Linked DNA regions of Homo sapiens: regions 2, 3 and 4 are each reported to be linked to region 1. Evidence: microRNA targets listed by miRTarBase, many of them from high-throughput screens and not tested one by one. Region 1 holds a microRNA gene; each other region holds the end of a gene's coding sequence.
The links. The annotated mature microRNA hsa-miR-548z reads CAAAAACCGCAAUUACUUUUGCA and lies in region 1 at 2,075-2,097, opposite strand. An mRNA with a match to its seed (bases 2 to 7 or 8) in the 3' UTR can be bound and repressed. Matches are read on the target gene's strand: a 7mer-m8 pairs with bases 2 to 8, a 7mer-A1 pairs with bases 2 to 7 and ends in A, and an 8mer does both.

Region 1 (3,185 bases):
ACCCATAAGTAACAGTTGCTATAGAATCATATGGTAATTCTGTTTTTAATTTTTTGAGGAATACTATACTGACAAATTTGAATCCTTATTTAAACCCAGGATTATGGAATACTGCTGCTTGATTTCAGCTGTCATTTTGTTGTCTACATTGTATTTTATTGAATTGGCGTTATTCCCAAATATTGGAAAATGTGGAGGTTTCTAATTTTTGCTACTGTAAATAGCACTAATAAATACCTTGAGCATGAAACCTTTTCCATTATGGATTAATTTTATAGGATAGTTGTACAAAAATGGAATTTTACTAATTATGAGGGTGTGACTTTTTATGATTCTAGTTATATATTGCCAATTTATGTCTATTTTTAAGTTTCATTACACCCTTACTTCCATTGGATATAGTCATTAAAATAGAGAAAAAAAACTTCAATAACTAAAGGCACCTTATTGCTATTTAATTTACATTCCTTTATTATTATTTTTTAAATTATTATTTTTTGAGGTGGAGTTTTACTCGTCACCCAGGCTGGAGTGTAATGGCGCGATCTTGGCTTACTGCAACCTCCGCCTCCCAGGTTCAAGAGATTCTCCTGCCTCAGCCTCCCAAGTAGCTGGGATTACAGGCGCCTGCCACTACGCCCTGCTAATTTTTGTATTTTTAGTAGAGATGGGGTTTCACCATGTTGGCCAGGCTGGTCTCAAACTCCTGACCTCAGGTGGTCCACCCACCTCGGCCTCCCAAAGTGCTGAGATTACAGACGTGAGGCACTGCGCCTGGCACATTCCTTTAATTAACTGTGAATTTAATACTTTTTAAATACTTCTGAGTAAATCTCCCTTGTGTGAGAATTGTCCATGCATGACCTTTGCCCATTTGTCTATTAGGTAGGCAAAATCTTGAGAGAGCACTGCTTGAGTCTGTGCATTTTTAGCTTGGTAGATGGTTCTGCTTTTTTGAGGTCAGCTGAACTTCAGGGTTTTTTTTGACTTACACTGTTTGTACCAAAAGGATATTACATATTCAGGCTTTCATTTTTTTAAGATGGAGTTTCGGTCATGTTGCCCAGGCTGGAGAGCAATGGTGCGAACTTGGCTCACTGCAACCTCCGCCTCCCAGGTTCAAGTGATTCTCCTGCTTCATCCTCCCAAGTAGCTGGGATTATGGGCATGCGCCACTATGCGCGGCTAATTTTTGTATTTTTAGTAGAGACAGGATTGATCAGGCTGGATGGTCTCGAACTCCTGATCTCCGGTAATCTACCCGCCTGGGCCTCCCAAAGTGCTGGGATTATAGGCGTGAGCCACCGTGCCCGGCCCAGGCATTTTGAAATACTTCAGAATGTGTTTCAGGCTGACATCACTGAAACTCAGAAAAATACTTATTACTCCTGTAGTTACAACATGGGAAAGGCATTGCTAAGAAAGCATCACCATAAATAAACCCGTGGGATTCAGAAGGTGGGGAGTTGGGTGATGTGTTTTCTACTAACCATGTGTTTTAAAAAAAAGGGTGACTAGAAGTTCCTGTTTATCTTTGAATTTCAATAAATTTAGGGCTTGTTTTCCAACCACTCTGGTAGAATTTAGAAGAACCTAACTTATTTATTTTTATCTTTTTGACAGTCTTGCTCTGTCACCAGGCTGGAGTGCAGTGGCGCGATCTTGGCTCACTGCAATCTCTGCCTCCCAGATTCAAGCTATTTTCCTGCCTCAGCCTCCTGAGTAGTTGGGATTACAGGCATGCACCACCATGTCCAGCTATTTTTTTTTTTTTTTTTGTATTTTTAGTAGAGTCAGGGTTTCACCATGTTGGTCAGGCTGGTGTCAAACTCCTGAGCTCGTTATCCGCCTGCCTTGGCCTCCCAAAGTGTTGGGATTACAGGTGTGAGCCACCGTGCCTGGCCAGTCCTAACTTATTTTGTAAGTATACTAGGTATTGAAAAAAGGATGGTAGGACAAACTGCTGGAAACCTTACCCACCAAAGATAATTTATACTGTTTACTTATAGGCTTACTGTCTTTTGTTGAAAAATTGCGATGAGAAAGGAATCGGCATTGGCATCTATTAGGTTGGTGCAAAAGTAATTGCGGTTTTTGCCATTACTTTCAGTAGCAAAAATCTCAATTACTTTTGCACCAACTTAATACTTTCAGGCTTGTTGAAGCCTAAGTAGAAAATTGTTGCTTAATCTCTTTTATTCTGATTAACTCCTACTTTAAATTTTTTCTTTCAGAATCTTTTTATCAAGTGAATCTTTTAAAAAGATGTGAAGAGTTACTTCTGACTTTATGATTGATAGATTATGAGCCCTCCTTAATCCCCAATTTCTTAATTCAAACAAGCTTACTGTGAAAATTTTCTTTTTTCTTTCTTTTTTTTTTTGAGATGGAGTCTTGCTCTGTTGCCCAGGCTGTAGTACAGTGGCACGATCTTGGCTCACTGCAACCTCCATCTCCTGAGTTCAAGTGATTCTTCAGTCTCAGCCTCCCCAGTAGCTGGGAATACAGGCGCATACCACCATGCCCAGCTAATTTTTGTATTTTTAGTAGAGACGGGGTTTCACCATGTTGGTCAGGCTGGTCTCGAACCCCTGACCTCAGGTGATCCGCCTGCCTCGGCCTCCCTGAGTGCTGAGATTATAAGCATGAGCCACCGCGCCCGGCCACCGTGAAAATTTTCTACAAATGCTTGTTTCGAGGAATCTTTTTTGATATTTTGCCAGCAAAGTCATAGGAGCAAAATTTTTTTAAATGAAAATAGAAAACAACATAGTTAAATATATCACGTAGGAGGAAAAGTACCAGTACCAAAATTAACTTTAGCATTTCTTAGTGTTTTACAGTTAACAGGGCATTCCAAGGGAATTAAAATTCAGTTGATTTTATTGGACTTTAATTTCAGAGGAACTCTGAGATGAGAAATTTAACTAGCACGTTTATCCGTTTAGGCCTTAAGCAGATGCAGGTTTCATGACATGCCAGAGGTAAATTTAGGGGTACTTGACTGTAGTGAGTAATTTCCCAGCTATGGGAAAATGTAAATATTATGTAGATGGTATAAAGAAACAATATTACGTTTGTCCATTTAAGGTCTGTTTCTGTTTGTTCAGACAGGCTTGTGGATTGCTTTTCTTGCCAGTGTTCCTTTAGGTGGAAGGTACAGCCCTTTCAGATATTTCAGAATT
Region 2 (3,185 bases), not on the chromosome of region 1:
TAGCAACAAGTAACATAACTCTCCTGGAGCACTTCAATACCTTTTGTTTGGACTATTATTTCTTAAATGAATGGCTGTCGGTTGACATGAACAACTTCGACTTGTAACTGAATTTTTCTTTTTCTTAAAACAGGAAAGATTCAGATGAGGCAGACTTGGTGCTGGCGAAAGAGGCAAATATGAAGTGTCCTCAAATTGTAATTGCTTTTTATGAAGAGAGACTAACTTGGCATTCTTGTCCAGAAGATGAAGCTCAATAATTGTTCACATTGTTCTTTTATATATATTTATATATATATATAAAAATTGGGTCTTAGATTTTGATTTACTAGTGTGACAAAATAACTACATCCTAATGAAAATCAAGTTTGATATGTTTGTTTTGAAAGTAGCGTTGGAAGAGTTGTTGGGGGTTTTTTGCATCCATAGCACTGGTTACTTTGAACAAATAAATAAAAGCTTTCTGTAGTTGCTTCCTTTATCAGAAAAGAACATTTGATACCATGGTATATCATTTCCTCTTCATTAAAGAACAGCTTTTCTAAATGTTGGGGGAAATGTCCATAGTCATTACTCAGTCAAAACTTGTGTTCTCATGAGCCTAAGGACCATTCTAGATTTATTACGTGTTTTTTGTGTGTGTGTGTGTGTGTGTGTGTGTGTGTATCCATAAAATGCATATGTAAATTTTTTTTTGTTTTTAAGCATTCACCCAAACAAAAAAATCACAGGTAAACCCATGTTTCTGAGATGCCATTATTCCAAGCAAAATAAGAGATAATCCCTTCAAGTTAAATTGAAAATTTTCCTGAAACCATACATTTCAAGTGAAATAAGTAATTCTAGATAGGACAATTTAAATTGGATAATTTTAAAGTGTCTATAATTGCAGTGGTTTATTTGCAAAATTCCTAAAAGGAAAAATTTTATCACTGCCATCACAGCAGGTTTCCTCATCCAGATGAGGAAACTAGACAAATGCTAGTGTGTTTTAACTAGCTAAACAAAACTAAGTTAAATGAACATTTAAAAGTTTCCCTAGCGGGCCATTCCTTAGCAAAATGTTGGAATCCCTGTTGCTACATTGACTAAAAGGTCATGATGAATGGAATATGTAAGACTTGGCTCATAGAAACCTAATCAGATGGTTAGAGGTGTTGGCAGTTTAGGACCTGCTGTCATAAATGTGTGAACAACCTTTTGTAACCTAACCTATTGACCTGCATGTTTTTTCTTTACCCCAATTCATTACATGGAGGCTCAATCTTGAGTTTGCTTTACTGGTTCAGCAAAAGCCAGGAAGAACAACTTTGTAGTAATCAAAATGTTATCCAACTGTATATTGTTTACTTTATTGTAAATACTGGTGAACAGTGGTTAATAAATAGTTTTATATTCCTTTATGCAATTATTAGACTTTTTTCTTTATTTGATATGCCTTTACAGTAGAAATAGAAATGCCCACACTCATTGGATTATCTTTGTTTATAAGTTAGATGATACCAGTAAGGCATTACAGTACATATCCTAGATCTTTTGAGCTTACGAGTTTTAAACTTGAATATGTATTTCCACAGGAATGTTTCCACAGTTGGGAAATAAAAGTTTCATGTGATGCCTAGGGTCAATTGTCTCATTAAAATGAGGTTTTAAATTCTGGTTTGTTGTAACTGTCTTCTAAAGAATGTAAAGTATTCTGATAGGGCTCAGTGTGATGATAGACACATTTTAATTGATTTCCAAAATCCATACAGAAAAAGGTAAATAACTGATGTTTATTAAGTACCTCCTTATATATATATATATATACCCACCACTGCTCTCAGCGGTGGGTTCACAGATGATAGAGAACCTTCTATTCATATTAGTAGTTGGTGGCCCTACATTCAATTTTACTAAGGGCATTTCTGAAAACAATATATTGTCCTTTGGCCATGCATGGTGGCACACACCTGTAATCCCAAAATTTGGGGAGGCCAACGCAGGAAGATTACTTGAATCCCAGAAGTTTGAGATCAGCCCGGGCAACAGTGAGACCCCCACCTCTACAAGAAATTTTAAAATTAGCTGGGTGTGGTGGCTTGCACCTGTAGTCCTTGCTACTTGGGAAGGTCCCTTAAGCCTAGGAGTTTAAGGTTACAGTGAGCTCTATGTCAATACCACTGTGCTCCAGCCTGGATGACAGACTGTTTCTCAAAAAATTTGAAAAATATTGTTTTTTTATATTCTCTAGTGTTTGTATTAGTTTCTTATTGGTGCTTTAACAAATTACCACAAATTTAACCCATTTATGGCTGAAAATAGTTCTGTAGGTCAGAAGTCCAAAATTAAGCAAGCTGAAGTCAGGTTATCAGGGGAATTCCTTCTGGAGGCTTTGATGGCAGAATCTTTCCTTCTCTCTTCCATTTCAAAAGGCCACGTATATTCTTTGGTTCCTGGCCCTTTCCATCTTCAGAATCAGCAAGCAGTGGAGCATCTTGCATCATCTTTCTCGCCCTTCCTCTCTTCCTCTTTCCATCTCTCCTGTCTACCACGGTGTATTATGGAAGGATTGAGCCAAACCATTCATTCAAATTCTTGAATTCCTGGAGCTTAGATCTTTAGCTGAAGAGAAAACCCTTTTTCTATCATTTCTACCCTCTGATGTTTATGTAATAGGCTTCTTGTAACAACTCAGATGCTACAGAAGTAAGGCCACCTCATCAATTTCCTTGCTTCAAACCCGAAGTTCAATTGATACCCATATCTCTGGATTTCAAGACCAGCCTGGCCAACATAACAAAACCCCCTCTCTACTAAAAATACAAAAATTAGCCAGGCATGGGGGTGTGTTCCTGTAATCTCAGCTGCTGTGGAGGCTGAGGCAGGAGAATTGCTTGAACCCAGGGAGCGGGGGTTGCAGTGAGACAAGATTGCACCATTGCACTCCATCCTGGGCGACGAGTGAAACTCAAAAAAAATAGTTTTTAACAAAAAATATATTTGCAATTTATATTTCACCCAGTTGTTATCTTGGGTCATCTTACTTAATAAATACACTAAAATATACTCTATTCTAGCATAGCTGCTAGCCACTCCAGAGAGGTTACCTGGGTTGGAATCTGCTATTTGATTCTGAACAAATTAATGTACTTCACCTCTCTGTGTCTGAGTTTCCTCATCTGTTATTCATGGGCTCCTATAAG
Region 3 (3,185 bases), not on the chromosome of region 1:
GGCTAATTTTTTGTATTTTTAGTAGAGACGGGGTTTCACCGTGTTAGCCAGGATGGTCTCGATCTCCTGACCTCATGATCTGCCCGCCTCGGCTTCCCAAAGTGCTGGAATTACAGGCGTGAGCCACCACGCCCGGCCTCACACTTTTAATCTCAGCAAATTGGGAGGCTGAGACAGGCAGATCACTTGAGGTCAGGAGTTTGAGACCTGCCTGGCCAACATGGTGAAACCGCCATCTCTACTAAAAATACAAAAATTAGCCAGGCATGGTGGCAATGCCTGTAATCCCAGCTACTCACTACTCAGGAGGCTGAGGCGTGAGCACTGCTTGAACCTGAGAGGCAGAGGTTGTACATCATGCCACTGCACTCCAGCCTGGGCAACAGAGTGAAACTGTCAAACAAAACACAACAAAACAGGCCGGGCGCAGTGGCTTACACCTGTAATCCCAGCACTTTGGGAGGCCGAGGCAGGTGGATCACCTGAGCTTTGGAGTTCCAGACCAGCCTGACCAACATGGAGAAACCCCGTCTCTACTAAAAATACAAAATTAGCTGGGCGTGGTAGTGCATGCCTATAAACTCAGCTACTCGGGAGGCTGAGGCAGGAGAATTGCTTGAACCCCAGAGGCAGAGGCTACAGTGAGCCGAGATTGTGCCATTGCACTCCAGCCTGGGCAACAAGAACGAAACTCTGTCTCAGAAAAAAAAAAAACAACACAAACAAACAAAAAAAACTTTCATTTCTACTTGATATTATTCAACAAATCAAGCAAATGATCAGGGAGATGCCTATCAGTTAAAGACAAAAAATGGCACCAATAGATACAGATATCTTATAACTGTCTTCAAAATATAAATTTGATAATGATCTACAATTACTAAAATTTTGCATGTGTCAGCTGGCTAAATGATTTTTTTTTTTTAAGAAAGAAAAGTAGGCCAGGCACAATGGCTCATACCTGTAATCCTAGCATTTTGGGAGGCCAAGGCAGGAGGACTGCTTGAGCCCAGTTTGAGACCAGCCTGGGTAACATGGTAAGATCCTGTCTCTACAAAAAATCAAAAAATTAGCCAGGCATTAATGGTCCCAGTTACTTGGGAGGCTGAGACAGGAGGATTGCTTGAGCCCAGGAGGTCAATCAAGGCTCCAGTGAGCCATGATTGTGCTACCACTACACTCCAGCCTGGACAACAGTGGTAAACACTGTTTGGAAAAAAAAAAAAGCACCAAAAGAGTAAACATGTGCAATGTGCAATTGAAGACCACTAGTATCTTCTCAGCGATTAAGGAAGTGACAACTTTAAGGATGATTTACAACCCTTTAGATACTAGATTCATTATGGAATCAGGAAAAATGTGTGCTTATAATCTTTCACCCAAATCAGAAGAATAGACTTAAATTATTCTTCATTACCCTGGTTCAAAATGAAATGACAGAAATCAAGACTTAAAGAGTAATTTTTTAAAAAGTGTATGTGTTTTTAATGTCACAAGGATTAACCAAATTAGACTATACAAAAATCTGTAAGGAAATGTAACACCAAGTGACATTAACACTTTAGTCTTATATTCTTTTAAGAAGACAACCCAACAAAATATGGCAGTTACTGAGTTAGTTAAAAGGATATTTATAAGGCCAGGTGCAGTGGCTCACGCCTGTAATCCCAGCACTTTGGGAGGCCGAGGTGGGCAGATCACCTGAGGTCAGAAGTTCGAGACCAGCCTGACCAACATGGAGAAACCCTGTCTTTACTAAAGAATATAAAAATTAGCTGGGCGTGGTGGTGCATGCCTGTAATCCCAGCTACTTGGGAGGCTGAGGCAGGAGAATCCCTTGAACCAGGAAGGTGGAGGTTGCGGTGAGCCGAGATGGCGCCATTGCACTCTAGCCTGGGCAACAAGAGCGAAACTCTGTCTCAAAAAAATAAAAACAATGTTTATAATAACTCATCTAGACCATATTTGGGGGGAAAAAGGACATTTATGCTATTGGGTTGCATGCCTCAATTCTTCACATCCCATTTTGTTTTTGCTTGCTTAAAACATACTTCTAAAAAGTGAAACTCAAATGTAAAAAGTTCCAATTCTGAGTTTGGTATACAGCAATAAAAATTTTATAAATACCTTCCAATTTCACATGTATGAATCTTTTCTTTGATTAAATACTTGTGCTGGAGTAAAAATTAAGATACTAACTCAACAAGAAAAGTTACAATGTGCAGAGTTAACATTAGACAATTCAGTTTCTTTCATTTTATTTTTCAGATGACTTCATTTCTCAGGACAGAATGACACAAACACAAGAAGCAGTCTCTAGGGCTGGCTGAGACCACATTTATCTGTTCTCCTAAAAGCACTAGCTCAGCTCCCAAAAGAAGAATTACAAATCTGAGAAGTTAGAGGAAAGGTACAGAATAGGAATTCTGATTAACAAGAAAAATCAATTAATGACATTGGTACTCTATTCTTCATATCAGTAATAATACAAACTCAGCCCTTTTAAATCAGAGAATCTGCCATTCTATATCTAATAAAGTAGCTTTACAACCCCTAAAGTAAAAGAATTACATGAAGGTGTAAACCAATTTGCCTCCTTTAGAGACACTGCAATATAGAAGAGGATTTTTTTTTTTTTGTAAGCTTCTCCTTCTCAGTTCTACAGGCTTCATGGTACTTCAGAGCCCCAATAATCAAGCAGTTCATGACAAAAGATAAAAGTGAAAAAGTAGACACAGAGATCTGTGAAGACTTCGCCCATTTTGCTATAGGTATCCATTGATCGATTTATCACTTCGGCAGGAATTCCCGACAATAGAAGTGCAGCTGTTAGTACTGTTGTCTTTATCTTCTTTTCACTCTGTGTAGAGAAAGACTCAAATTAATCTTCAAAGTTTCAGCAGGCTACATTAAGCTCTATACAAACATGATCAGTACTGCTGTTTTTAACCGAAATGATTTAAAAACTGTTAATGATGTTTCAAAACAATCAGTAAGATACCAACATTTACTGAGCATATAATATGTAACTCATCAATCTGCTAGGCAATAGCAGACATCAGTCTTGCTTTTTTTTTTTTTGAGATGGAGTCTCGCTCTGTTGCCCAGGTTGGAGTGCAATGGCACGATCTCGGCTCACTGCAACCTCTGCCTCCCGGGTTCAAGCGATTCTCCTGCCTCAGCCT
Region 4 (3,185 bases), not on the chromosome of region 1:
AGTGGTAAAGATCAACAGAAAGTATACTGCCTCTCTTTTAAGCTTTTCACAAAGTAATATACACCAGAATATTCCCTCTTCCATTTGAGCAGAAGCTGGTGGGGCTGAGTTGGAGAAACAGAGAAATGATGAAATGTAATTGGGCCAAAATTTTATTTAACTGTGTAGAACAGAAGTTATTTTGAAGTCAGAGTTACTTGTGAATATATAAAAAGTGAGGTCTATTTATAGTTGGCAGTGGGGGGAATTTTCAGAAACATGATTAAAAGGGGAACTTATTTGAAGCTTAGATCAAAGGAAAGATGGATTAGCTCTATAGAAATTGGAATGAAATGTTTTAACAAAAATAAACAAAAACAGGAAAATACAGGCTCAGAAACTCTTAAAATTTGGCTGCCAAATTTTATTGGCTTTTATGTGTCTTTTTTTACTCTTCTTGGACCATTCATTTTTTTAGTTTCAGAAATCCTATCCTGAAGTCTATCAAGAACGATTTCCTACACCAGAAAGTGCAGCACTTCTGTTTCCTGAAAAACCCAAACCGAAACCACAGCTGCTAATGTGGGCACTAAAGAAGCCTTTCCAACCATTTCAAAGAACTAGAAGTTTTCGAATGTAATAATACTTCCACAGCAACAGGTGCTAGAGACCACTGTTGTTGTTTTGAGTGAATGGTGGTTAGGAGAAAGACTTTGGTGGTGGAAGAAAGAAAAGCATAAAACAAAGACTACTGAAATATAGATAAAGATTGCCTTAGTTTTTAAAAATGTTTGGCCATTAGTATTTTTATAAAACTCAATGCTAGTTTTAAAGTGTATAAATTGGTTAAAATTTATGAGTCAAATATATAGTGATAATGTTAACATGTTTGTAATTGCTACAGAATTTAAGGGTATTTTTATCTCTGTGCTTTCTTTTTCATGGTGTTTATTAAATAATTGTGTATATACATCCTAGCTACTGATATCTTTATTATAGCCTTAAGACTTAATTTTAAGTCTTAAAAATAGCGTGTATACTTGAATAAGAAAGACACTGGGTACTGTTACTGTGATGCTATTGACTTAGTAGCCAATTATCATTTCTCCTGTATAAATTCCAGTTTTTATTGCTGCACATAAATTTTTTAATGTCTTATATTGTGATAGCTATGTCTTTTATTGCAGATTTATTGGATGTTATGACAGATTTTACTAAAGCTAGTGTTTTTATAACATATATATTAGTTGATGTTTACCTATAAGTGGAGTAGATTTTCATCTGCCTGCAATGGTATAATTTCAGTCTTAGCTAAAAATGGAAAGTTGAACTGGATAAATTCTTTGGGTACCCTTAGACCTCTGATTCTAAGTCAAATGCAAATGGGTTAAATAAAATGAGACTACTTCCTTTATAAATATATTTTCATCCTTTTGAAAGTAAGTGAAATGTAAATAAACTTATTTTTTTTAAAAATGCCATACCTCGTGTTTCTTTTTTGGCATTTATTTAGATCAGTTAGAGAGCATCCTCAAATGCCTTTGCCAATGGTCTTCATCAGTCATTTATTTCTATGAGAAAATGAAAAGTAAGATTTGGGCTTTTGTACTGACTGGTCTTTAGGTGAGCACTTTGCCAATTTTTTAGCATTGCTTTGTCCTTTTGTAAAATTGTGGTGCACTTGGATTATGGAGCATCTGAAAGTCTTCCTCTGAGCGCAATTACCCAGAAAGCTGAGAGCAACACCCACTAATTGGCTTACAGTACTCCTTGGACTGATTTTTCCTTGCACTTAAGATTTGCTCCTGTTCTCTTGTAGCAAAATACCTCCTACATCTGATGCAGATTTTGCTTTTAAAAATGGACCAAAGTATTCCTATTGGTTTGGGTACCACCTTACATTCCAAATACATAATGTAATGGGAGATTTTTAGTGTTTCAGGATTCATTCTCAGACTTTGGCATTCTGTTTAGAGCCAAGAATAATTCTTCTTTCTGCTCTATTTTCACTCCGAGGTAGAGTTTATTTTTCAGAATCTCTTTTCCTGTTGCTTGTCTTTGGAAGTATATGTGGTTGTTTTCTTTCCTTTTTTTTTTAAGATTACTTTTTTAAAAAAATATAACATATTTATGGAGAGATCATAAAACATAAGCACCAATTAAGTGTGAAATTGATGAATAGATAATAGCAGTTATCCAAAGTGGTTGTCCCAATTAACGCTCCCATTAACAGTGTATGAGAACTCCTTTTGTTTAATATCCTCACCGAAACTTGCTATCGTCAGAGTTTGAAATGTTGTCAATGTGGTGGTTATTAATAGTGTCTGATTATGGTTTTATTTTGCATTTCCATGATTATTAATATGGCTGAACATTTTTTTCCATTTTTTTGACTTTTTCGTCTTTGTACAAATTTTGGTATCAGATTGTCAAGCCTGCATACACACACACACACATGCAGAGACACACACTCACCCTGTTGAGTTTTTTTTTTTAATTTTGATTGTATTATATGTATAAATCAATTTGCAGAGAATTGCTGTCTACAATATTAGGTCTTCTAGTCCATGACCATGGTTTACCTTTCCATTTTATTTGAAATAAATGAGAAAAAAAGTTGCTTTTTTCTGTGAAGATTTACAAATCTTTTGTTAGATTTGTTCCCAAGTATTTGATACTTTAAAAAAAGTATCAAAATTTTCAAAGACTGTAGTACCCATTTCCTGTTTCAACAGTTACTCAGCTGATCAATGTTGACGTTTAATTCTTTTGTAAATGCTGGTGTTGTAAATTTCCTTATAGTGTTTGTTGCTTCTGTATGGTATAAAACTGATTTTTCCTGAGTTTTGTTTACAGTGAACCTTGCTAGACTTGTTAATTCTAAACATTTAGTATGATTCTTTGGCATTGTCTACGTATTAGGAAAAAAACAGCTTTTGCTTTTCCGTTCCATGGTAGACAGCATCTATATTGTCCTCAGTGATCCTTGCCTCCTGGTATTTAATGCCTTGTGTAATTTCCTGTCCTTGAGTGTGGGTGGAGCTAAAATGACACATTTCTAAATAATAGAATATATCATCAGTGATGGGGTATCACTTCTCAGATTAGATTCCAAAACTCTGGCTTCCATCTTGCTTGTCTTCCTTCTTATTCTCTCCCTGGCTTGCTCTGAGGAAAGCCAGCTGTCATGTTGTGAGCTGCCCTTT

Region 2: miRTarBase lists CBX3 as a target of hsa-miR-548z. Seed matches in the 3' UTR shown: 7mer-m8 at 412-418 and 7mer-A1 at 697-703.
Region 3: miRTarBase lists CAMLG as a target of hsa-miR-548z. Seed matches in the 3' UTR shown: 7mer-A1 at 1,929-1,935.
Region 4: miRTarBase lists DEPDC1B as a target of hsa-miR-548z. Seed matches in the 3' UTR shown: 7mer-A1 at 757-763, 7mer-A1 at 1,102-1,108 and 7mer-A1 at 1,205-1,211.

Annotation. Positions count from the first base shown.
Region 1 is chr12:64,620,456-64,623,640 of GRCh38, forward strand. MIR548Z (microRNA 548z) reads right to left here and starts at 2,150; the gene lies at 2,054-2,150. All of the region lies in intron 1 of RASSF3 (Ras association domain family member 3), which reads left to right. MIR548C (microRNA 548c) reads left to right here and starts at 2,054; the gene lies at 2,054-2,150. RefSeq lists an enhancer at 976-1,135.
Region 2 is chr7:26,211,949-26,215,133 of GRCh38, forward strand. CBX3 (chromobox 3) reads left to right here. Exons shown (of 6, transcript NM_016587.4): 6 at 134-1,659. The coding sequence ends at 260. Among named protein-coding and RNA genes, the nearest start is that of CBX3, 12 kb to the left of the region's middle.
Region 3 is chr5:134,750,434-134,753,618 of GRCh38, reverse strand. It overlaps CAMLG (calcium modulating ligand), which reads right to left. Exons shown (of 4, transcript NM_001745.4): 4 at 1,462-2,860. The coding sequence ends at 2,669. Among named protein-coding and RNA genes, the nearest start is that of DDX46, 6.8 kb to the left of the region's middle.
Region 4 is chr5:60,595,187-60,598,371 of GRCh38, reverse strand. DEPDC1B (DEP domain containing 1B) reads left to right here. Exons shown (of 11, transcript NM_018369.3): 11 at 458-1,460. The coding sequence ends at 619. Among named protein-coding and RNA genes, the nearest start is that of DEPDC1B, 100 kb to the left of the region's middle.